7 linked regions of the Homo sapiens genome follow. The protein of the gene in region 6 purifies or fractionates together with the protein of the main gene of each other region. This does not show direct contact. Each region holds a gene or a part of one and is shown on either strand. Other genes may lie near its edges.

Region 1 (3,500 bases), on a different chromosome or scaffold from region 6:
CTTATTGAAAAAAAACCATACTATTTAAATAAGAATTCAGTTCATGAAAGTTTACAAAATACAACCAATGTACTCTGACTTGTGGTTATATCTTAACTATCTCAACTGTACTTTTCTGGTATGGCCAGACCTTTTGCAAATATTACCATGGTATTTTAATTTTATGATATAAAACAGTAGCAATTTATTAAGTTTTCCATTATAAAAATTAATATGGCAATTCTCAAAATACTGAAAAAACTGTTTTATGAAAGCAGTACCCACATCACTGCAACGTATTTCCTTTCTCTTAGAAAACATCTTCAAAAGGCACATTTTAATTACTAGTGTTTATATCTAAAGATAGTAGTTTGAGTTTTGAATTTCCAGTCAATTTTCCATTATCTCAAAATTGAGCTAATGGAGGGTTGGAAGAGGTAGGAGAACGCAGGTTTCCAATGAACTCCCTCAGGGCAGCAGAATCCTCATTCATCTCGTCCATGAAGACCAAAAGGAAGATATAAGGGAAAAAGGAATGGCAGATCTGTTTTGCATCCTAATTTAACCTTCTACACAAAATACTTCATTAAAAGCAAATAAACAAACACAAGATAGTAAGCTTAGAAAACAAAAGGCCTAGACCACAAATTACCCAGTTAAGCCCAAGTGGTGACATTGGTTTTAAGCCTCAAGAAAATGAAACTTCTGCTTCTGTAAAATCACATCTTCATCAATTGAATTTAAATCACTTAGTGCATTAACAATGTTACAAATTCCAATAATGTCAGACATATGGATGATATTCAAAATAAAGTACAAAAATACATTTCAAAATCAAATATAAATGACTTTATGGTTATCTGCCATGCTCCCCTTTAATTTGGCCTGATAGTCTACATTTGACTGTAATTATAATAACATCTGTAATTTCAAGTACAATAGTACAATCATAATAATTTTGAAGAACGTATGACCTAGGACCCCAAAATGCAATCCAATATACAATTTGGAGTATGGTTTACTTTTTAGTGAAGTTTAATACTAATTGAAGTACTAAATTGAACAAGGCCAGTACTCTGAAGTACTAATCTCAAGTATTTGATCCCATGTAAGAAACAGAAGGGAATTTTTAAGGCAATTTTGGTATTCCAAAATATTGGGGATCTACCTTAATTTTCTATTATTCCCCTCAAGTCTCAATTGAATATTTCCATTTTTTAAAAAAAGGGGAAATTTCTTAGGTTTTTTCCTCACTACAACAAAGTAATTCACCAAAAATATTCTCAAGTACAAAAACCAAAATGGTCCTCTATTACTTAGCCAAGATATAATTTTCTGGTCCCTAATAATGGTCACTTTAGGAGTACTTATTCAAATTCTAAAATAGCAGCTTTTGAAATTAAGGCAACATTGCTTTATTCTTACCTGTTTTTCTATTAGCTAACTATTTTATTAAAGTTCGTAAGAGCAATTTCAGACGTAGGCATCCTCAAAGGCCTTTTGTAATGTAAGAAGAATTAGCATGAACATTCTTCTCAATATTAAAAGTTATTGTATTCTACTTGGAATTCTAGAGTAATTACAGTCATTCCAGCATGTGTAAAATTACCTTTTAAACTAACAACAACATAAAATACAAATTTTCTACAAAAATACAATATAGGAGATATAGCACTTCTTCCCTGAAATAGAAATTTAATATTTGGACAAAAAACTGTAAACTTTTGGTTACATTCAAAATACAACCTTTTAAAGACTTAAATTGAGGTTTTAGCAACTGGAGCTCCTAACAGCAGATTTATATTACTATGATGTTTTAAAAACATGATAATTCTAAACAGTTTGTTTCTCTTACTCTGACATTTACTACCAGGAGGAAAAAAATGGCTTCCTGCAATTGACAGTCTGGGTAAAGGAATTGCTCAGGTGGACAATCCGACCCTGACTTCCACCTTGACTGCGTTCCACAATCACACAAGGTATCTGTACTAGCTGGAAAGGACTCTTCCCGTCTCTCAATGCCTGAGTAAGGTTTAAGATCTGTGGGAAGAAGAGAGATTTTTACCAATTTAAAAAGATAAAAAGCTTCACTTCACTGACATTTTTTAAACCATTTATTCATTATAATTTTTATTTCATCCATTTATGAGCAACAGAGACTGTGAAGATAAGTACCTGTTATAAATATGTATTATATGAATGTATGTTTACACACACACGCGCACACACACACGCGCACACACACACACACACAATTAGCATTAAATAACTTTTGCCAGATGGTAAGTTTAAAATATTCTAGAATATCCTGCCTATGTCCAGGAGCAATGGAATCAAAGAACGGTAAGTGAAGAGGTCTACATACATATTCAATTTAACATAAAAACTCAACAAATACTGGTTTAAACAGTCTGGTTTTAACTAAATACTTGCCTTATCCATTCATTCAACAAATTTATTGTATGCCTACTATGTGCGAGGTTCTGCTGTAAGTGCTAGGGATACAATAGTTAAAAAAACAAGCAAACTTGCTGCCTTCGTAGAGCTTACACTTTAGCAGGGAGAAGAGTCAATAAACATGAATATGTAAATTATGCCATGTATTAGAAGGTGAAATTGCTATGGGAAAGCATGAAGCAGGGCAAATAGGTTAGAGAATTTGGGAAGGCAGTCATTTCAAATAAAGGTACATTTAAGAGTTTACTCTTAAGAAAAATAAAATTAGGGAAAGTAAAATATATTACATATCATGTTCAAAGATACTCTGGGAATTTCTACTTGGGCATGCAAATAAGGTTATGAAACACAATACATAGATTATTCTGGTCTCTGTTCAGGTCAAATAAAATTATAGCAGTTCATCTTCTTTTTTCCCTGCATATTAGGAAAAATGTCCTTTCTTGTATATTTTAGAAATACAGATTTCTCCTTCAGGTATTTGAAAATATCTAATATATACATCCTATGCATTTCACTGGTTCTTGTAAAGACTAGTCAATAGTGATAAGCATAAATGTTTCCACATAAAGCCATACTAATAAATAAACTTCATAATACTTTAAATAGTATAAACTAGATGGTTGGTTGATTGATTGATTGATTGACTGATTGATTGTAGAGATGGGGTCTTGCTATGTTGCCAGGGCTGATCTTGAACTCCTGGCTCATGCAATCCTCCTGCCTTGGCCTCTTAAAGTGCTGAGATTACAGGTGTGAGCCACCACAGCTGGCCAAACTAGATGATTTTAGTTTGTAGAATATTTGGAGCATTTAACACATCAGGAAAATAGATCTTTACTAGTAACAGTGTTATAGGTTATGTTTATGTTTTAGGATCACTTTTAAGTTCTTCCCTTAACATTTTCTTTTTTTTTGTTTTGTTTTGTTTTGTTTTTGAGACAGGGTCTTGCTCTGTCACCCAGGCTGGAGTGCAGAGTGCAATCACAGTGCACTGCAGCCTCTGCCTCCTGGGCTCAAGCGATCCTCCCACCCCAGACTCCAGAGTAGCTGGGCCTAGAGGC
Region 2 (3,500 bases), about 40 Mb from region 6:
ATGATGTTTTTCCAGATAAACAATGCTATACTAAACATCTTTATAGTTGCATATTTACTTTCCCCACTATTTCCTTAAAATTAATTTCCTGGAAGTAGAATTGCTGTATCAAGGGAATGCATGTTTTTCATTTTGATCCATATCACCAGTCTGCCCTCCAGAAAGCTGTACCAATTTACATTTTCATGTACACTGCATGAGTGTTCTCACAGCTTGGACAGCGATGCACATTATTCACCAATCTGATTAAATTATTAATGAGGCTAATTATCTCTTCAAATATTTAATGGCCATTTGTATTATTTTGCCATTAACAGTCCACTCATATCTTTTTATCCTCTGTTCTTCCAAATATATGAGTGCTCTATGTAATGAGATGAATCCTCTGCCCATATATAATAAACAGTTTTTCCAGCTGGCTATTTCTCTTAACTTTATTTATGATGCCTTTTCTTATACACAGGTTTTAAACTTTTAGGTGGTCAAACCCATCAATCTTTTTAAGATTATGGGTTTTGAGTCATGCGTAAGCCTTAGTTTGAATACTTTAAACCCATGTTAAACTACAAGCAACCATTATTGATATTTCTTTTCACAAAGAAAGCCATAACATAGTTTTAAGTATTCTATAAACCAGTATGGAAACAGTTAAATTCCATGCAAACAGTAATAACCTACAAATACCCATGATTATGATCAATTTCTGCATATGTATGGGAACAATGGAATAAAAATCAAAGACACAATTGAAGAAACATGCCTGCAGATCTGTTTCAGCAGGACTTTCATTTTCTTCATCATCATCTGCTCTGACAGTATCAGAATGACAATCTTCCTCAGCTTCTGCCTGAGGGGGGAAAACCCAAATAATGTCAGGCATATAAACACACCAGTTGCCCTCTGCAATCTACATTTCTCATTCAGCCACTTTCTATTTAGTACCATACTGTCAACACTTTGTGGAACCCACTTTGAGTAGCAAGGCTGTAGGGGGCACTTGAGACCTTACTATTAATTTCCAAAGGAAAATGAGTCTGAAAAGCATATTCTCTACTCCAACCCACAGTACTCACGTTATTGTGAATCCTAACATTTCCCCCCCGCCAAATTTAACATCAGTTGCATCCATCCAAAAATCAATTTAATTACAGTTGTCCCTCAGTATCCACAGGTGATTAGTTCCAGGAGCCCCCAGGACACCAAAATCCCTGGGTTTTCCAGTCCCTCATATGGCATATTTGCATATAACCTATGCACATCTTCTCATATACTTTAAGTCATCTCTAGGTTACTTATAATGTAAATGCCATGTAAATAGTTCTTGTAGTATATTTTTCCTAATTTGTATTATTTTTTATTGTTGTATTGCTTTTTTTCCCCCAAATATTTTTGATCCACAGTTGAATCCCAGGATGCAGAACCTGCAGGTACAGAGGGCCAACTGTGTAATATAAAGTAACAATTCAAGTCTATTACTATTCATAAATGATTTATGATTAATCTAATTAGGTAAATGAAGCCAAATTCTTCATTAATATACATAACTACTGATAATCTATAATAAAAATTATTTTCTCTTTTTCTGGCCAGGTGCGGTGGCTCACACCTGTAATCCCCACACTTTGTGAGGCTGAGGCAGGAGCATCACTTGAGGTCAGGAGTTCAAGACCAGCCTAGCCAACATAGTGAAACCCCATCTCTACTAAAAATACAAAAAATCAGCCAGGCGTGGTGGTACACGCCTGTGGTCCCAGCTAATTGGGAGGCTGAGGTGGGAGGGTTGCTTGAGCCTGAGAGATGGAGGTTGCAGTGAGCCGAGACTGCACCATTGCACTCCAGCCTGGATGACAGAGACCCCATCATAAAAAAAAAAAAAAAAAAAAAAAGGAAAAAAGAAAAGAAAAATATTATTCTTCTTAGAAAAAAATGAAATAAAATTAGAACATCTTTGGTATTTTTTTAGTTCTACAAGACTTTAAAACTTTTTATGAGAAAAACACTTAAAGAGAATTAATCCCTAAGTACTCATGACCCAACTTCAATAATTATCAATGTAATTCCTTAGATCAAATATCAAGTCACAGTATTCATATTTCTCAAGATGTCATATGTAAAATACATATATTTCACAGTTTGTGAAATCAAGATTCAAATAAAGTCCACATTGTAATTGCTTGATATGTCTCAAGTCTTTTGTAATCCTCACTCTTTTTTCTTGTAATTTATTTGGGATGAAACTGGGTCGTTTTTCTGTAGAAGCTAGATTTTGCTGAGGTGTCAATAAATATGTTCCTTTGACCTCTTACTCTTATTTCCTATAAATTGTGGCAGGATCTTGAAAGGCTAGATTAGATTCTGCTATTTCTTTTTTCTTTTGCAAGACTGCCTCATAGGTCATGTTGTATTTTCCATCAGGAGGAGAAATGTTCTAGAATGCAGTTGACAAGGTGCTGTGACAGATGTTCCAAACATAATTGAGTCTAAGGCAAAAAGCCCAAATAATTTTAGTGTCCATAAACTTCTACAAGTCCCAAAACAGAAAATACTCTAATGTTTCATGTTAATGAAATACAACATTGCTTCTTTATAGTTATCTTCTTCACAGGTAAGTTTAATGATACCAATCAGATATAACTTGATACTTGAATTTTTTTTGATACTGTAGAATAAACAAATCCACTGGGTTCTAGGTTAAAATGTATTGTTAGGTGGCTAAAAATAACAACTTTGTTTCAGAAAATAGTAACATTTAGTTGTCCTATGGAGTTCAGCAAATAGTTATTGCTTTCTTGGGACAGAGTCTCCTTATGCAGCCCAGGATGGCCTCAAACTCCTGAGCTCCAAAGATCCTTCTGCTCCACCTCTTGAGTAGCTGAGACTACAGGCTTGTGCAGCCATACCTGGCTGTAGCAGATAGTTTTTGCTTCATGGATCACTTAAGAGAATACAGTCCAGGCAGGGTGTGGTGGCTCATGCCTGTAATCCCAACACTTTGGAAGGCTGAGGTGGAAGGACTGCTTGAGCCCAGGAGTTTGAGACAAGGCTGGGCAACATGGCAAGACCCCGTCTCTACAAAAAATACAAAAATTACCAGGGGGTGGTGGTACACAGTAGCCCCAGCTACTCGGGAGGCTGAGGTGAGAGGATTGCTTGAGCCTGGGAGATGCAGGTTGCAGTGAGCCGAGACTGCACCACTGCTCTCCAACCCAGGAGACAGAGAGAGACCCTGTCTCAAAAAAAAAAAAAAAACACATATATATATATATTCCGTAAGATGATGTCACTTCTTTTATACAGCTAGCATGTTATTAAATGTGTTCTATGAAAATATGACTTCTGTGTATTTTATATGTACTAGGAAAGCTTAGTCAAAGACTTTTAATAGTAAATGCTTTTGTAAAGAAACCCCTTCTATTTTATCTGTCTATAAATCCAATTTTTATATATTGGATCGGCTTCAGTGGAATAAAGCTAGACTGGAATTACTGTGTGTGACTTGG
Region 3 (3,500 bases), on a different chromosome or scaffold from region 6:
TTCGCCGTGTTGCCCAGACTAAAGCTAACATTTGAGCATACCATTTACACAATACCTCTTCCATGCACTGCTGCACTGAATAATAACGCCACGAGGCAGTAGCATGGCCCCTATTTTAGAGATAAGGAAACTTGGGCTTAGGTTAAGCAACTTGCCCAAGGCCATACACTAATGAATGAGGGAGCTTGGATTTAAAATAAGACTGGTGATACAGCCCTGCGCTTCCATCACTGGCTTTCATGGCTTCTCAGGAGGATCACAGGCCAAAGAAGGCGAGGGAGCTGTTTCTGGTCTAGTCCTTGTTTATATGGGTCCCCCTCAATGCCCCACCCCATTACCTTTGCCACCAGCTGGTAGAGGGCTGCTAGGATCTGCAGTGAGGCTGCTGTCTGCTGGAGACACCGTACAGCTGGGGCCTGCCCCTTTGTAAGCAGCTCCTTCCACAGGGCCAGGGCTTGGTCCAGGCATTTGGACTGAGCTGTTAAGCCAGAAGAAAATGACTGCTGTCTCAGCATGGGCCATCTGGAGAGAACTTCCCTTCCTCCATAACATCCTCTGCCCTTTACGCCAACCTCCCACTGCTTCCACAACCTCCTACCCTACAAGGTCAGGGTTTCCCTCACCAGGGGTCCCTGTTCCACTCTTAGGAAGCCATGGAGATGCCCATGCCACACTCCATTTACCCCTCACCAGCATCTGCAGCCAGGTTGAAGGCAATGTTACTGTATAGGAAACGATCTTCCTGGAGTTTATCTTCATAGTTCAGGTCATTGACTTCAAATTCCTCCAAGTTACCAGGGGCCTGGGCTCTCCGATCCCGCTCGATACCCTGGATGGGAAGATCGGGGTATAAAACAGGGCACAGTGGTGTGGGCCTATCGTCCTGGCTACTCGGCAGGCTGAGGTGGGAGGATTGTTGGAGCCCAGGAGTTCAAGACCAGCCTGGGCAACAGAGAGACCCCATCTCTAAAAATAACGAACAAAAAAAAGGGCTGATACCAACTTGTTGGGGGCCCAGGGACAGTAATTCCTACACCCAGTTCTGGTGAGCCCCACAGCAGCCACACTCACTTCCTGCATTTTGGCTTCCAGAGTACAGATGTAAAGCCACAGCAAGGCCTGTGCTTTATCGTCCAGAAGCTGATCTCTGGCCTGGGCCTCAGGCCTCACAGAGTCCAGAAGCTGCAGGGCTTCCCGGATAGCATCCAGAGCAGAGCTGCAGGGAGAAGATGTGCTTAAGCTGGGCCTACTATGAGTATCTGCCATAGCGCCCTGGGAAGGGCTAGCTGCAGAACAGCTGGCCTCGCCCTTTGCATGTGCTCCCATGGCCACAAGATGAAGGGAGAGCTCAGGGCTGTGGAGAGGGAAACTGGTTCTCAAGAGGGTGAGAGGACCTAGGGCAAGGAGCAAGAGTGGCCTCTGCAGCTACTACTCCTTACCAGTTGGTCTGCTGCGTAAAGTCGTGGTAGCAGAGCACCTGAGCCAGTTCTACCAGGTGGGTGGCTCGTGCCCAGGCCCCGGCTGGTGTCTCCTCGGGGCTCAGCTCCAGGAGGTCACAGATGATGTTGAAGCGTTCCTGTCCAGTGTCGGCCCGCACCGCCTTGTAGGCCTGCAGCTCCTCCCTCAGCAGGAGGGCCAGGGTCTCCGGGTCCCAGCCACTGAGGCTGTCTCGCAGAGTCCTGAGAGAGGGCATGCTCAGCACCAGGGTGGAACCCAGGAGGCATAAAGCCTCTGCTACCTGCTCCCATGCTGAGGAGCCCCAGCCTTGGCTTGCTCAGTAGGTTTCCAGTCATGGCTTTAAAAATTTAAATCAGATTGCATTGCTCCTCTGTTTAACAAACGGCAGTGGGCTCCCACTAGGAATCATTTCCAAAGCCCTGACCATGGCCTATAAGGCCCTGTGTGATCTGGCCGCTTCCCACTTTGACCACCTTCATTCCATATGGTTCCCCATCCTATACCGCTATTCTACTACCCCCAGCATGCCGGCTTTCTCAAGCATGGTCCCAAGTTTGTTCCCACTTTGCAACCTTTGTATTTACTACTCTCTCTGCAAGGAATTCTCTTCCCTGAGTTTTTTGTTTGTTTTTTTTTAGACAGTCTCACTCTGTTGCCCAGGCTGGAGTGCAATAGCGTGATCACGGTTCACTACAGCCTTGATCTTCCAGGCTCATGTGATCCTCCCACTTCAGCCTCCTAACCAAGTGTAAATAGACTATAGGTTCATGCCACCACATTCGGCTAATATTTTTTAAGTAGAGTCAAGGTCTCGCTTTGTTGCCCAGGCTCCCTGAGATCTTTACAAAGTAGATTCCTTCACATCCTCAGGTCTCATCTATCACTTCTTCAAAAAGGGTTTTCCTAAATAACCCACCTCAAGTTGCTCCCTCTTTTAGCAAATCAGTTTAATTGTCTTCATAGAGCATACGTGAAGGCTGGGCGCACTGGCTCATGCCTGTAATCCTAGCACTTTGGGAGGCCAAGGTGGAAGGATCACTTGAGCTCAGGAGTTCAAGACCAGCCTAGGCAACATAGTGAGACCTTGTCTCTATTAAAAAAAAAAAAAAAAAAAGGAACAGACACAAAATGCAAAATGTACTTTTTAAAAATATCTCCCCAAGTAGAATATAAGCTCCATGAAAGCAAGACCACTGTCACCACTATACCCCCCAAGTAGCACAGTGGCTAGCATACAGTGGGCACTCAATGAATAACTAATGAATGAAGGAATTAGTATTTTTCAGACATAAAGATGAAAGGACATGACCATGAGTACCAAAAGCCACCCTATCCATGGGAGAAACATGGTTGACCCCCTCCCCAACTCACTTTTTTTTTGAGATGGAGTCTCCCTCTGTCACCCAGGCTGGAGTGCAGTGGCACGATCTCGGCTCACTGCAACCTCCGCCTCCCGGGTTCACGCCATTCTCCTGCCTCAGCCTCCCGAGTAGCTGGGACTACAGGCACCCGCCACCACGCCCAGCTAATTTTTGTATTTTTAGTAGAGATGGGGTTTCACCGTATTAGCCAGGATGGTCTCGATCTCCTGACCTCATGATCTGCCCGCCTCGGCCTCCCAAAGTGCTGGGATTACATGTGTGCTGGGATTACATGTGTGAGCCACTGTGCACGGCCAATGCCCAGCTAATTTTTGTATTTGTAGTAGAGACGGGGTTTCACCATGTTGGCCATGGTCTCAAACTCCTGACCTCAAGTGATCCACCCGCCTCGGCTTCCCAAAGTGCTGGGATTACAAGCATGAGCCACTGCGTCTGGCCCTCAACTCACTTTAGCTGTAGCTCCTTGTCTCCAGCCCTGGCCGCATCCATCTTGACCCGAACCCAGAAAGTGACTGGCTCAGCCATGTGTTCAGGGCTACAGGGTTGCAGGGCTGCCAGCCACAAAATCACCATCTTGCAGCCCTGGGCCTGTTTACCCAGTTTCTTCAAACTCTCTACTTGTAGCCGGAAGCACCTGTGCAACTGACCAGAGAAAGGGAA
Region 4 (3,500 bases), on a different chromosome or scaffold from region 6:
GAGCCACTGCGCCTGGCCAGCTCTGACCTTTTTACAAGGATACACTGGGCCCTGGTTGGCGTCCAAAGCAGGCTGGTGCTGCGTCCTCACTGTGAGCTGGGCGCCTGCAGTGTGGCAGCCGTCAGAGGACACAGGGCGTGTTGGGCTGGCATTGTGCTTGGCCTGTAGTGACCACTTGGTGGACGAGGGGACATTGCCTCTCTCAGTCCCACCCTCGGGCCTTGCAGAAGCAGGTGAGCCTGGGCAGGGCCAGGCGCCCAGAGACCCTCTGTGGACCCCAGGCATCTCCCAGCCCTTTGGGCTGCCAGTCCTCCCTGTGCCTTCAGGCCACGTCGTCTGGACCGTAAACCTCAGCCTGGGACTCAGATCTGCCTGTGTCCTGGACTGAGCTGCTCTCCGTCCTTTTGGACTGGGCTCAGGCTCTGAGCCCACCCTCTCCCCTCTTCGGGAAGCCTCCAGGTCGCCTCTTCTCCAGGCCACACCTCTTGGGCACCTCCTGTTGCTGTGCCCTGGACAGAGGCGTCTACATGCTCATGTGTGGAGCGTTCTGAGCTGTGCCCATCACAAGCCCTGGCCCCCTGAGTGGAGGACAAAGGGCCAGGATGTGGAGGGAGGGACTCAGAGACAGACTTGCTCTAAGCTGGTTTGAGTGGGAAGAAAGGAAGTGTTAGAGGAGAGCCCGGGATCCCCACCGCATAGCCCTTCTGCTGCCACGGAGTGCTCTGCGGCCTGCCCTGCCCTGGCAGAGAGGCCCACACCAGGATGGCTCTTCCCACTTTCCTGCGATCAGGGACTTGGGGCTGACCCCTGCTGTCTCCAGGCTCCCTGGGGGCTTGGTGGAACCCTCTGACCTGTAGGCACCCCCAAGCTGGGCACGCCCAGGCCTGGGGCTAGGCCTGAGCCTTCTCTCTGCTGTGCCCTCAGTTCCCAGCCCCAGAGCCAGGGTCACCACGCTGTCCAACCCCATGGCGGCCTCGGCCTCCAGACGGACCGCACCCCGAGGTACCGTACCGAGCCTGCGCAGGCCCGCCTCCCCTTACTTGGTGCTGGCGGCCTCTAGTGTGCACTGAGTTATTGCGGGCACTAATGTCTCCCTCCACACCTGACACTAACGACCCGTCTCCCGAGCCCCAGTCCTTACCTCCCTGACCCGTGAGTCCTGCCCTAGAAACTAACACTGGCTGCCACCCCACGTCTCAGAATCTGTGTGTTCCAGCCCTCCTCTCGCACGGCCCTGCTGGGGTCCTGCCAACCACCCCTGCCCTGGGAGCTCAGCCCCCTCCCTGGAGGCCGGGCCCAGCCAGCCCCAGGTAAGTGGTGCCCTGGCCCCCTTTGGGTGCTTACCTGGCATCTCCTTCACAGGTAAGTGGGGCAGTGTCCGGACCAGTGGACGCAGCAGTGGCCTTGGCACCGATGTGGGCTCCCGGCTAGCTGGCAGAGACGCGCTGGCCCCACCCCAGGCCAACGGGGGCCCTCCCGACCCGGGCTTCCTGCGTCCGCAGCGAGCAGCCCTCTATATCCTTGGGGACAAAGCCCAGCTCAAGGTGACTGGGGTGCGGGGGGTGGGGGGTGAGGGTGGGGGCTCGGCAGGGGGCTTGGGGCCTCATGTGTCTCACGGGACTTGTCCGGATTCTTTTCAGGGTGTGCGGTCAGACCCCCTGCAGCAGTGGGAGCTGGTGCCCATTGAGGTATTCGAGGCACGGCAGGTGAAGGCTAGCTTCAAGAAGCTGCTGAAAGCATGTGTCCCAGGCTGCCCCGCTGCTGAGCCCAGCCCAGCCTCCTTCCTGCGCTCACTGGAGGACTCAGAGTGGCTGATCCAGGTCTCTGCACTGCCCCGTCCCTCTGCCCGCCTTGGTGCTGGGCCCTCCCCTTGGGTAGAGCCAAGTGGACGGGTCTAGGTTTGCTTGTCTGACAGTGTGGAGCGCTGGAAGGAGGAGGTGACAGCCACTTCCCACCCAGGCTCTGGTGCCTAGAAGGCAGCTGGGAGGCTGGGCCTGGCTGGGGCCAGCTGACAGTGAGAGTGGCCAGGGCTTGGGCATGGGTATGTCGGAGCAGCCTGCTGGGCCCACGTGGGCTGATGACCACACGGGGGATGCAGTTTATGGTTCTGGGCCCCTGCTGCATTCTCTCGGGGGTGGGTACTGACAGGATGCTGGCTTGGTAAACACTGGAGGGCTTGAAGGTAGGGCCACCGGCATCTTGAGGGACAGGGACGTCCCTCAGTCCTAGAGGGCTTGGAAGGGGGTGGGCTGTGACCAGCAGGCTGGAGGCGGTGGTCGGCACACCCAGAGCGAGCTGTGTTTGTCCAGTGCTCTGCCCGCATACAGGGCTTGGGGGGCTGTGGACAGGGCCTGCCTCCCCGCTGCCTGTGGACATGCGGGTCTCTGGCCTGGTGAGTGGCCAGGCGGGAGGGCGGTGGGTCCCCGAGGTGCTGAGGCCGCCTGTCCCTGCAGATCCACAAGCTGCTGCAGGTGTCTGTGCTGGTGGTGGAGCTCCTGGATTCAGGCTCCTCCGTGCTGGTGGGCCTGGAGGATGGCTGGGACATCACCACCCAGGTGTGTGGCGCGTGGGGCTGGGGTGGGCCAGGCTCCCGGGCTCCTCGCTGACCTCCTGGCGGTGCTGGCAGGTGGTATCCTTGGTGCAGCTGCTCTCAGACCCCTTCTACCGCACGCTGGAGGGCTTTCGCCTGCTGGTGGAGAAGGAGTGGCTGTCCTTCGGCCATCGCTTCAGCCACCGTGGAGCTCACACCCTGGCCGGGCAGAGCAGCGGCTTCACACCCGTCTTCCTGCAGTTCCTGGACTGCGTACACCAGGTGGGCAGGCCGCTGTGTGGGTGGGCCGGGACTGTGCACCCTGACCGCTGAGCCCTGGCCCCTGACCCACATGGCGTGCAGGTCCACCTGCAGTTCCCCATGGAGTTTGAGTTCAGCCAGTTCTACCTCAAGTTCCTCGGCTACCACCATGTGTCCCGCCGTTTCCGGACCTTCCTGCTCGACTCTGACTATGAGCGCATTGAGCTGGGTATGTGGGGAGTCGGGGCTGGGGCAGCCACGGGTCAGGAGGGGCCCAGGCTCAGTGCTGCTTCTGTGCAGGGCTGCTGTATGAGGAGAAGGGGGAACGCAGGGGCCAGGTGCCGTGCAGGTCTGTGTGGGAGTATGTGGACCGGCTGAGCAAGAGGACGCCTGTGTTCCACAATTACATGTATGCGCCCGAGGACGCAGAGGTAAGCTGGGGCCTGGGTCGGGTAGGCGGCTCCTGCCCGACCCAGGTCCTCAACCACAGGCCCACCCTCAGGTCCTGCGGCCCTACAGCAACGTGTCCAACCTGAAGGTGTGGGACTTCTACACTGAGGAGACGCTGGCCGAGGGCCCTCCCTATGACTGGGAACTGGCCCAGGGGCCCCCTGAACCCCCAGAGGAAGAACGGTCTGATGGAGGCGCTCCCCAGAGCAGGCGCCGCGTGGTGTGGCCCTGTTACGACAGCTGCCCGCGGGCCCAGCCT
Region 5 (3,500 bases), on a different chromosome or scaffold from region 6:
TCTTAAATACAGAAATATTTTTTCTGTCAAATTTAATATTTAATTTTTTAATATTTGTTTAGTATTTCAACATTGTAATTTGATTAGATATTGTATTGGTAGAACTGAGTTCCATATTTTAACAAATTATCTAAGATTTCCTTCTGTGTGAGTTATTTCTCTACTTAATAATCAGAACTAACTGATTCTCAATTAAAAAGTCATACAAATAACTGGAGGAAGAGAGTTCTCTCCTTTTACTCAGCTTATTCACTTCCCCTATGGTTTATATGCAATAAACATACTTGGAAGAAGAATTAGAAAATACAGAAAGAAAAGAGAAGAATAAAAATCACTTGCAGTTTCAACGGATAAGCAAAGAACATAGCCGTTACACCATTTTAGGATACACTTTTGCATGCACATATGAGAAGCTACTACATTCTGTTTTACAACAGATTTTTTCACTTAAAATATTTGTGAACACTTTTTTATTGTGGTAAAATATACATATCATAAAATTCACCATTTCAACCATTTTTTTAGTGTGAACACTTTTATATCATGTGCTTCTACAACAGAGGTTTAATGATTGTAACAACATTCCATTATATTAATATGTCATGGCCCAAATCTTCATTTAGGTTGCTTTCATTTTAAAAGACATTTTCACGTTATCTTTAATACATCCTTAAAGATAATCTTTAATGTTTTTAATCTTTTCACAATATCTTTTTTTGAGATAGTCTCACTTCGTCACCCAGGCTGGAGTGCAATGGCGTGATCTTGGATCACTGCAACCTCCACCTCCTGTGTTCCAGTGATTCTCGTGCCTCAGCCGTCCCAGTAGCTGGGACTACAGGTGCATGCTACCACACACCACCACACCTGGCTAATTTTTTTTATTATTTTTAGTAGAGACAGGGTTTCGCCATGTTGGCCAGGCTGATCTCAAACTCCTGATCTCAGGTGATCCACCTGCCTTGGCCTCCCAAAGTGTTGGCTTTATAGGGTTGAGCACCATGCCCAGCCCCAATATCTCTAATATGTCCTTAAAATAAATTTAGAAAACTTGTCCTCATGCAGCAGGAAGCCCTGAAAGTGCCACACCATTCACTGCCCTGAGCAACAGGCAGGGGACACCAATGGCGTAGAATCTAACTAGCCTATTCCAAGAGCTATAAAAATTTGGGCACTTGGATAATAACAGAAACCATAACCTATGACCTAAAAGACTGTCTCTTTCAACAAAAGTGGAGAAGTATAGTTATTCAGTTTTTATCTGAAGGTCTCTCTACATATGTAAAAACTCCTCAGCATTTAATTTTTCTTTGTTTTATAGACTTTACATACATAAAAACAGCCTCAGGTTTATCTACAATGTTTCAGTTTATTCTCCTTAAAAATCTAAGCTGTTTCCATTGCAGCTGTTCCTAAGTCCTTGAGCCCTCATTAACTCAATGTGAGAGCACAAGAGAGCTAAGCCTGAATGATGGGCTGACCAATGTGAGTGTGAGGAAAGATGACCTTTAGTTGTAAACATTCATCAAATTTCACATTCTCCAAAATGTTAGTACCACAGAGAGCCTGCTAGGATGCAGAAGCTGTGTCTGGCCTTATTAAAGCCATGCTTTTGAAATGATAATTAGCAACATCAACAGCACTTCACATCCATAAGAAGCACACCAATGCATGAAGGAGCAGGTAATTCAGAAACACACATACATGAAATTAACAATCTTCCCTTCCTCATTAGAATGCACTGTTCTTTCTTATTAGGAATAGACCAGAATAGCTCAGTTTCCTTGTGCTGTCACATGAAAAAGCCAAAGAAAAGCATGATTTTAACATCCACCTCCCCATGTAGTGGCAAGAAGGCATTTACATCTAACAGGGAAGCCCACTGTGATTTGTATGTACATTCATCATAGCACTGACAATCTAGACCATAGCTGCAAGATAGCCTCAACTTTTCCAAAGAACATGTTAAGAAGGAACTATACATCAAGAGCAGTGAGATACATTGATATCAGAATTAAACAGAAATGTTCTAAATGAAAGTTGACAGACAAGGTATTTTCTTACCTGCTACCTGACCAAAATACAGGGCAGTCTAGATTTCTCATAGCTGAAGAGTCCCAGACTTATTTCTAGTTTCTTCAAAAAGATCTTGAAAATACCCTTCACCATAAAATAAGTTGATACCCATTTGATGTCAAGAAGACACTAAATCCAGGAGTTGGGGTTTTAAGTGAAGGTTGATCAAGGGGCAGGGGACTGCCACTCAGCTATTCAAAGCCATATTTCGTTGCAACAGTACCCCAGGGAGCTAATTCAATTGTACCTCATGCAACTAAAGTGCATTAACGCTCAACAAATTGACCGCAATTACATGAAACCAAGTATTCACTTAATACTAAGAAGCCTGGAATAATTCAGCATACGCTTAAAAAGCTGAGTGTGGAACCCAAATGACTGCTTATTTAATACTGAAGGAAGGAGGGAGAGTGTGGTGAACCCCTGAGTTCTTCAGAATAAATCCCTTACAGAATTTCCATAGAGAAGTTGATCTATGTTCCTCTAGAGAAAAGGAATCACAAGAAGAATCAGGAAACAGAATACAGTGAAGGGCAAGGTGAGAAATGGCAGCTTCAGGTTTTTCATTTCTAATGACTTTAAAAAATTATTCAAATTCAAATCTTTTACTGTCTCACCTGATAAGTCAGGAAACAAAGACATTTAAAATGGCAATGGAGCTGCAGGCTTCTGGACAGAGAATGGCTCCTTTATCCAGGTAAAACTACAAATGAATATTTTAATTTTGTGTTTTTAAAAAAATGTCTGCATATTTGATACTGAAATATTTATCACTCTTTAAGGCCACCTAGGAAAAAAGGCCCTCATGTCCCCTTCTGCAGAGGGAATCAGGTTTGGAACAGCCATCCTGTCACATTCCCAAGACTTGGAAACATACACAAAACAGTTCATGCTTCAACATGTATGTAGCTATATGATGCAATAAGAGGCGCTCAGTGACCTGGGAGACAGGTGGGAAAGTAGAAGGGTGAAGAAAAGAAAAGAAAAAATGAAAAGAAAAGAAAACTTATGCCCTTCTGATTCCCACAAAATGGTCAATACAAACAAATCCATCTTAATACCATATGCTTCTGAAGGATGGAAACAATACATAGCTGTGAGTAAGTTTAATATTATTTTATCTACTCAGTCCTTAGTGACATTACCAAAGGACCTTTCTGAAATATAATCTTCCAAGTGTTTAAAAGAAAATTCCAACTGGACTTTGCTAGTTGGGTTTATATCCAATTCAAGAATTCAAAACACCAAAGAAGAATCACAGTTGTGAAGGTGATATGCAAATAATAGTGACATGAACCAAGAGTTTGCTTGAAAATAAAATTTAAGCATGTGTCACTTTGGGTTTCGATCAAAACTCTAAAATAAACAATAAAACCATCACAAAGCCACTGAAACACACACAATGGTGAAAATGTTCATTCAGC
Region 6 (3,500 bases):
TAAGGGCTGGGTTGTTTAATGCTTAAGTCTCCATTAATACCCACAGCACCCTGTGGTGCATCCAGTGTGCAGCAGGAACCCAGCAAACCTTGTTGCCTGCCCCACCTTTGTGCCCACAGTCTTTTGCAACATTCATGCTTTACAGATGGGTCTCGGCAACATCTTAACACACGATATCTTCAAAAGTCAAACGAGACTTCTAGGAATTTCTCATAAAGAACTAATCCAATATGCAAGCATGGCTTCTTGCCCAAAGATAGTTTTGACTGCATTATTTATTATAGCAAAAAACTGGGAACAGAGGTTGGATGCAGTGGCTTCACGCCCATAATTCTGGAGTTTTGGGGAGATCACTTGAGGCCAGGAGTTTGAGACCAGTCTGGACAACATAGCAAGATCCCATTTCTTAAAAAAAGCCAGGCGTGGTGATGCATGCCTGTAGTCCCAGCTACTTAGGAGGCTGAGGTGGGAGCATCACTTAAGCCCAGGAGTTTAAAGCTGCAGTGAGCTATGACTGTGTCACTGCACTCCAGCCTAGGTGACAGTGAGACCCTGTCTCAAAACAAAAAACAAAACAACTATGAGCAACGCAAATACCCAACAGAAAAAGGGTTAAGTCAACTGTCATGCAGCCATATAATAGAATATTGTGCAACCATAGAAAATGATGCTTATGGAGACTTTTCAATGGCAAGTAAGATGATTATGATGTAATGTTAAATGAAAAGGGCTCTATTCATAGACATATATGATCTCAACCCTCTCTGAAATGACAAAAGAAAAAGAAAAACCCTAGGAGGTTTACTCTGATTAGTAGGAGTGGTTGGATTAGTAGGATTATGATTGATTTTATTTTCTTCACATTTTTCCATATTTTCTAAATTTGTAATTTTATGGTCAGAAAAAAAAAGCTAATTAAAAAAATCCACAAAGAGACAGGAAGACCTTTGAAGGACAGCACTCACAATAATGGAAAAAGGGTCCTCCAAAGTCTAGGGGAGCTGGCAGGTCCCAGCTCTCATGGGCCCATCCCAGTTCCTGAGCCCCAGAGAGCTGGTAGAAGGTTCTGCTGACCCTGAATCTTGAAAGCTTCAGAAGCCCGGGCTCTGTTGCCAGGTCTTCTTGCTCCATTTGCTCAAGACCTCTTTATGATTCTTACTGAAAGCTGTGGACTCTCTCTCCAAAACATGCAACTCAGACAGATGCACAAAACTCTGCCACAACCTGAAGCCCATGCACGGATCCCCTCCGGTTCTGAGGCCCAGGCATCATCATACATTCACAATAAATTCTTAAAGGCTTTGGGACATATTGTTAAAAATAAGATAATCCTTCCAGTTCCAAAAGGAACCCAAAACGCAGAGCCAGCAGACCCTTCACGAATTGCTAAGCAAAGTTTGTTTTCTCTGCATTCTGGACAGTCTTCCCTTACCCTACCTCTCTCGGTGGGCTTCTGAAAAGCCCACTCTGAGATCCTCAAGATCCTCAGGTTTTTTCTTTTTCCAGCTTTTCCCCACCCAAATCTTCGCTATCAAAAGGTTCTTGCTAAAGGAGCACAATTCTAAGTATAGACTTCTAGTCAGACACTGTGTGTGTGTGTATATGTGTTTATGTGTGTGTGTGTGTATGTATGTATGTGTGTAGGTGGATTAGTGTGGCACAGAGCATTCCTCTCATCCCTAAAACCACGTGCAACGTAAAGGGAACTTGCATTGTCTGAGTGTGTGGTTGACATACCCCACAATCCTGGGTGTGTCAGATGCCATTCACTGTATGCTGGGATTTCTCCCGAAGAAAGCACACAGGTACCTGTTCTGCAAACTGCCTGTCTGTCAGCCTGGGCTTTGGACTCGGCTCTCCAGCAAATACCACAGGTATTTGATCTTCTCATGACAATCATCTGTCTTAGCATAGGAGAAAGCACCAAAATGGCTCTTTAGAGAAAAGCACTCTCTCCCATTTAATGTAGGAAATAAGTAGAGGCAGTCTTGCACTCTTCTCTAAGCACGTGGCTATGACATTTCTTTGACTTGAGGGTAAGTAGATTCTACCGGGAAGACAGAAAATGAGGGGTTCAGGCAGAGGCAGAGGCCCTGTTTTCTTATAAGCCCTTTACAGCCATGGCTAATTTCCTAATGGAGAAACCTACAAAGGCTTTCCCCCTTTTGCCATGAGAAAAGAATACTGCCCTAGGTCACTGTGCACAGCCTAAGGAGGCCATCTGCACTTTCTTACTCCTAGGTGAACAACTTCCCTGAAAAGACAAGGGAGCCACTTGTCCCATGCTGAGTCCACACACCTCTGGGAGCACCAGGCCAACACACGTTCTTTAGGTCTCAGGTTTACATCCTCTTGTGGCAAAATGTGGTGCCCACTTTCTGAGGCAAAAAGATCAAAAACTTTGGGACTTCAAACAATTTCAGAGATAAAAATCATGCTGCAGAGAATTAGGCAAAGGGACTTGGAACATATGGACTCTATTTCACTCCAGATTAACAGGCAGTGAAAAATGAAAACCATGAAAACAAGAAGTGCCTGAGAAAGTATGTTTTGTGTTTTGCCAAGCCCCAAACATTTCCCAAGTGGTGGGAGAGGTCTGGCAAAGTCCCCTGGTGCTCTCAATGGTGGTAGAGGAACGGGAGGGGCTTTCTGTGCACATGCGGGTATGATGGGTGAGGGTCACTCTGCTGCATCCATCCAGGACTGTGAACCATCACGCCACGGCTCCATGCTCAGCTCGCCCCCCTGAGGGCTCTGTCCCTGCATCCAGAAATGGCTGTCTTGGAGGGTTGCCGCATCTGTCAATGTGATGCAGTGTGACCACGGGTGAGTGGCAGAAAGCACACGAGGACTGGCCTGAGTCTTCTGGGGAGGCCTTCACAACTCACTCCACAAAGACCAGGCAGCCCTTTGTGTGAGAACAAAGAGCTAAAGCTGGGTCTTTTGAAGGCTTTGGGGCTTGAACCAACTTAAAATTTTAAGACAATATCCTCTCAGCAGCAAATAAAGCGAAGCTATCTGTCTTTAAAATGGTGGAGCTGAGAGATACCTTCCAACCTATGTTGCCGTGCTGTAATTAGGAGCAAAATGAGATCCGTGGGAAACTTCTGACGGGTTAGAGTGCTATGTGCAAGGCAGTGTGCCTGATCTTCATCAGAAGCTTTTAAGTTAAATAATTTCAGAAGAAGCTTTACTGCCCTCCTGAGATCCCTCATGGGGAAATGGAAAATCAGCTCCCTCCGAAGCCTGCTGAATGTGTTCTCTGTAACCGAGCCAAAATATTCATGGCCCTCCTGAGAAATCTGTGCTATAGGGAAGAGTTTCCAGCCCAGAGACCCTAAAGCCCTTCAGGCAGCTGCTCCCCTTATATCCTCCAAGCTCAGGGTCTCCAAGTTGTGGCTGAGTCTCTGCTCCTATCTCAGGACAGATCAGAGCTTTGGTGGGGCTGACACTTGATCCAAATGGTACCCCTGGGAGTCTGGGCAAGGGGCTTCCCATTC
Region 7 (3,500 bases), on a different chromosome or scaffold from region 6:
TCTTTTCCAATTTGGATGCCCTTTATTTATTTTTCCTGCCTATTTGCCCTGGCCTCTAAACCTCTGTTTTGGAAAAAGGCTTTCATGTAATCTAGCCAGTTATGTATTTTTTGTTCTATTTGTGTTCTTTATTTGAGCAAAACTGTAATAATTTATTATTTTCAGATTTACTCAGGCAACCTTAAAAAAATTAAAATGCCTAAGCCATCCATGCAGAAATTTTTATTAGCTACTCTTCAAATTACTTGTAAGTGTTGCTGTGTACAAAGGTAGAAAACAACTCTGACTAAATTTTATTTCTTCCAATATTAAGATATTCCTTTACTTAGCTTACAGAAAATTCTCATAGAAAACCTTTGCTGGAGAGCAGAAGTATGGCAGCTCATTGATTAAAAAACCACAATCAAGGCCAGGGTGCGGTGGCTCATGCCTGTAATCTCAGCACTTTGGGAGGCTAAGGTGGGCAAATCACTTGAGGCTAGGAGTTTGAGACCAGCCTGGCCAACATGGCGAAACCTCGACTCTACTAAAAATACAAAAATTAGCCAGGCATGATGGTGCATGCCCATAATCCCTGCTGTGTGGGAGGCTGAGGCACAAGAATCACTTGAACCCAGGAGGCAGGGGTTGCAGTGAGCTGAGATTGCACCACTGCACCCCAGCCTGAGCAACAGAGTAAGACTCTGTCTCAAAAAAACAAACAGAAACAAAAACACACTTTCTTTCTTTTTAATACTGTAAATTTGGCAGAAAACTTGCTGAGTAAGTCTCTTTTAAAACTGCCTTTTAAACTCTCTTTTAAACTTTTATTTTTATTTTATTTCCCTTTTTTTAGAGGAAGGTTCTCACTATGTTGCCTAGGCTAGTCTTGAACACCTGGCCTCAAGCGATCCTCCTGTCTTGGCCTCCCATAGTGTTGGGATTATAGGTGTGAGCCACTGCACCCAGCCAGAAATGCCATTTTTATCACTACCCAAGGACCTCCATTGCTCTCTGGAGGCCTGTTGCATTCTCAGCCACCTTTAAGTTTCACTTAGTTTCATGACTTAATGCCATCCGACATCACTCAAATGATCAAACTTTATTTTACTTTTCAATGTAAGTCTCAGGCCCTCTTGGATATTTTTACTAATTGACAAGGATAGTAACTGGCTTCAACAAAGTCTTCTAACTTGTGAAATGCTTGCAAATTACAGGATAATCTCTTTTCTGAGTAGCCCAGTGTTATCTGGTATTTAGCATGCCTGCTTAACTGCCTGATGAGGCATTACTGTAGATTATTGCTCAGAAAAAAAATAGGCAAAACAAAGTTAGCAGTATGAAAAAATAGACGTGTATACTCTTTGATCCCAGATTTATCCTTAGGAAGTAATCGAGGATGTACTGTCCATACTAGTGAAAAAAAAATTGCCAACAACATAAATGTTCAATAATATAATTTTTTAAAAAAATTATGGTACATCAATATAATGGAATTCAATTAAACTTTATAAATGGTGTTGGAGAAAACTACTTATTGATATAAAAAAGCAAAGCATTTATTCAGTGAAAAAACATGTAACAAAATTATGTACAATATGATCCCATTTTGTTAGGAAAAAATAACTATCTAAAAGTATACTGGCTGGGCATGGTGGCTCACGGCTGTAATCCCAGCACTTTGGGAAGCCAAGGCGGGTGGATCACCTGAGGTCAAGAGTTCAAGACCAGCCTGGCCAACAGGGCAAAACCTCATCTCTACTAAAAATACAAAAATTAGCCGGGAACGGTGGCATGAGACCTGTAATCCCAGCTACTCGGGAGGCTGAGGCAGAAGAATCGCTTGAACCCAGGAGGTGGAGGTTGTAGTGAGCTGAGATCATGCCACTGTTCTCCAGCCTGGGTGACACAGCGAGACTTAGTCTCAAAAATAAATAAGTAAATAAATAAATAAATAAATAAATAAATAAATAAAGTATATAAATGCTTACAAAATATTGAAGGTTAAGACATCAAAAAATGGCAGGGCACAGTGGTTCATGCCTGTAATCCCAACAATTTAGGAGGCCAAGGCAGGTGGATTACCTTAGGTCAGGAGTTCAAGACCAGCCTGGCCAACATGGTGAAATCCCATCTCTACTAAAAACACAAAAATTAGCTGGGCATGGTGGCGCACACCTATAATCCCAGCTACTCGGGAGGCTGAGGTAGGAAAATTGCTTGAACCCGGGAGGCAGAGGTTGCAGTGAGCCAAGATCGTGCCATCGTACTCCAGCCTGGGCAACAAGAGTGAAACTCCAGCTCAAAAATAAAAAGACATAAAAAATTAACAGTGATTATATCTCAGTGTTGGAATCACATGCACTGTAATTTTCTTCCTGAAGTTGCTTCTACTTTCAAATTTTTTCTTCCTTTTTTTAACAAAAGTTATGTTATCCTTCTTAATGAGATTTTTAAATGTTACCAAAAATTACATCTATTTTTTAATGTTAAGTAATGTGGAGTCCTGAACAATATTTTCTTTCTTTTTTTAAAACATACATCTTCTTTCCCATTTCTGCTTTGCTCATGCCCACACATTGTGTTGGGAATATCTTCCTTAAATTTAACTTATTGATCTCAAATTGTATTATTTAATCCTCTTCATTGAAATATAATTTAGTTGTAAGCTCTGACAGAAATAAGGTGACATAAAAAAAAGAAAAGAAAAGGAAAGAAAAGAAAAGAAAAGAAAAGCTTTACCTGGATATCAGTTAATTTGCTCAAGATGCGGCTTGCCAGCTTAGGACCATTCTCCATAGTTGGAATGTGTATTGTCTACAAAAGAAAGGGAAATGAGATAATTTGAGGGTACTCATGTATATGGTGATAACAGATAAGACACTCAAGCAATTCTGCTATACTAAGGCAATTCCACTGAAGTTAAGGAATAGCACTAAAACCTACTGACTCTGAGTGCTAGCACCTTATGCCAAAGACTTTCATATCCAAAATTTGAATAAAAACTAGCCAATGACAGGTTATACATTGCCTACCTACCAATTAATTTTAGGGCATAACTGGTTTGTATACCAGCCTTCAGGATCATTTGAAGAACCAAGGAGGAGCTACAGTTACCTAAAATAGTGGCTAAACTTAAAGAACCCTACCTCTTCCAAGATTCTGAGAATCTGTAAGGATGAATGATTGTCTTCTACATATTAACCCTCTGGCTAATATGAGAACTCAAAGATATTTTGCCACAGTTTAATGCAAGTCATTCTGGGAGCATAAATTAAAGCAAGTCTATGACTTCATAAAAGGGGCTTCTATACCTATCTCTGGCCCAAGGTAAACTTCCAGGGGCCACTACCTCCACAATATTGGATAGCATGATTAAATGCATGGCTGAAAGAGATTTCATGCTTCTAATTTGTATCTGAGTCATGCCTACTCATGCCTTGCTGGCTTGCAGGTTTTGATAGTTTGATTTTAGGAGATAGTCTGTGCTCTCAAACACTTTTCATATTATACCCTTTAGT

What was found.
Region 1: the proteins of GFOD1 (region 6) and PI4K2B purify together in Homo sapiens (affinity purification with mass spectrometry; 3 studies listed by BioGRID and IntAct, with this or other methods). This does not show direct contact.
Region 2: the proteins of GFOD1 (region 6) and FBXO9 purify together in Homo sapiens (affinity purification with mass spectrometry; 3 studies listed by BioGRID and IntAct, with this or other methods). This does not show direct contact.
Region 3: the proteins of GFOD1 (region 6) and ESPL1 purify together in Homo sapiens (affinity purification with mass spectrometry; 3 studies listed by BioGRID and IntAct, with this or other methods). This does not show direct contact.
Region 4: the proteins of GFOD1 (region 6) and SBF1 purify together in Homo sapiens (affinity purification with mass spectrometry; 3 studies listed by BioGRID and IntAct, with this or other methods). This does not show direct contact.
Region 5: the proteins of GFOD1 (region 6) and RALGAPA2 purify together in Homo sapiens (affinity purification with mass spectrometry; 4 studies listed by BioGRID and IntAct, with this or other methods). This does not show direct contact.
Region 7: the proteins of GFOD1 (region 6) and BCAT1 purify together in Homo sapiens (affinity purification with mass spectrometry; 3 studies listed by BioGRID and IntAct, with this or other methods). This does not show direct contact.

Annotation. Positions count from the first base shown.
Region 1 is NC_000004.12:25,275,533-25,279,032, reverse strand, and holds part of PI4K2B (phosphatidylinositol 4-kinase type 2-beta), read right to left. Parts: intron 2,020-3,500; coding exon 1,846-2,019; 3' UTR 1-1,845. UniProt on the Homo sapiens protein: Together with PI4K2A and the type III PI4Ks (PIK4CA and PIK4CB) it contributes to the overall PI4-kinase activity of the cell. This contribution may be especially significant in plasma membrane, endosomal and Golgi compartments.
Region 2 is NC_000006.12:53,068,404-53,071,903, reverse strand, and holds part of FBXO9 (F-box only protein 9), read right to left. Parts: intron 932-3,500; exon of another isoform or gene 881-931; coding exon of another isoform or gene 848-880; coding exon 761-847; intron 1-760.
Region 3 is NC_000012.12:53,274,799-53,278,298, reverse strand, and holds part of ESPL1 (separin), read right to left. Parts: intron 3,483-3,500; coding exon 3,289-3,482; intron 1,680-3,288; coding exon 1,440-1,679; intron 1,217-1,439; coding exon 1,072-1,216; intron 830-1,071; coding exon 691-829; intron 479-690; coding exon 339-478; intron 1-338. UniProt on the Homo sapiens protein: Caspase-like protease, which plays a central role in the chromosome segregation by cleaving the SCC1/RAD21 subunit of the cohesin complex at the onset of anaphase. During most of the cell cycle, it is inactivated by different mechanisms.
Region 4 is NC_000022.11:50,454,536-50,458,035, reverse strand, and holds part of SBF1 (myotubularin-related protein 5), read left to right. Parts: intron 1-924; coding exon 925-1,002; intron 1,003-1,362; coding exon 1,363-1,544; intron 1,545-1,640; coding exon 1,641-1,820; intron 1,821-2,453; coding exon 2,454-2,555; intron 2,556-2,626; coding exon 2,627-2,812; intron 2,813-2,893; coding exon 2,894-3,020; intron 3,021-3,091; coding exon 3,092-3,222; intron 3,223-3,293; coding exon 3,294-3,500. UniProt on the Homo sapiens protein: Acts as an adapter for the phosphatase MTMR2 to regulate MTMR2 catalytic activity and subcellular location. Promotes the exchange of GDP to GTP, converting inactive GDP-bound Rab proteins into their active GTP-bound form.
Region 5 is NC_000020.11:20,506,645-20,510,144, forward strand, and holds part of RALGAPA2 (ral GTPase-activating protein subunit alpha-2), read right to left. Parts: intron 1-3,500.
Region 6 is NC_000006.12:13,369,101-13,372,600, forward strand, and holds part of GFOD1 (glucose-fructose oxidoreductase domain-containing protein 1 isoform 1 precursor), read right to left. Parts: intron 1-3,500.
Region 7 is NC_000012.12:24,827,102-24,830,601, forward strand, and holds part of BCAT1 (branched-chain-amino-acid aminotransferase, cytosolic), read right to left. Parts: intron 2,797-3,500; coding exon 2,722-2,796; intron 1-2,721.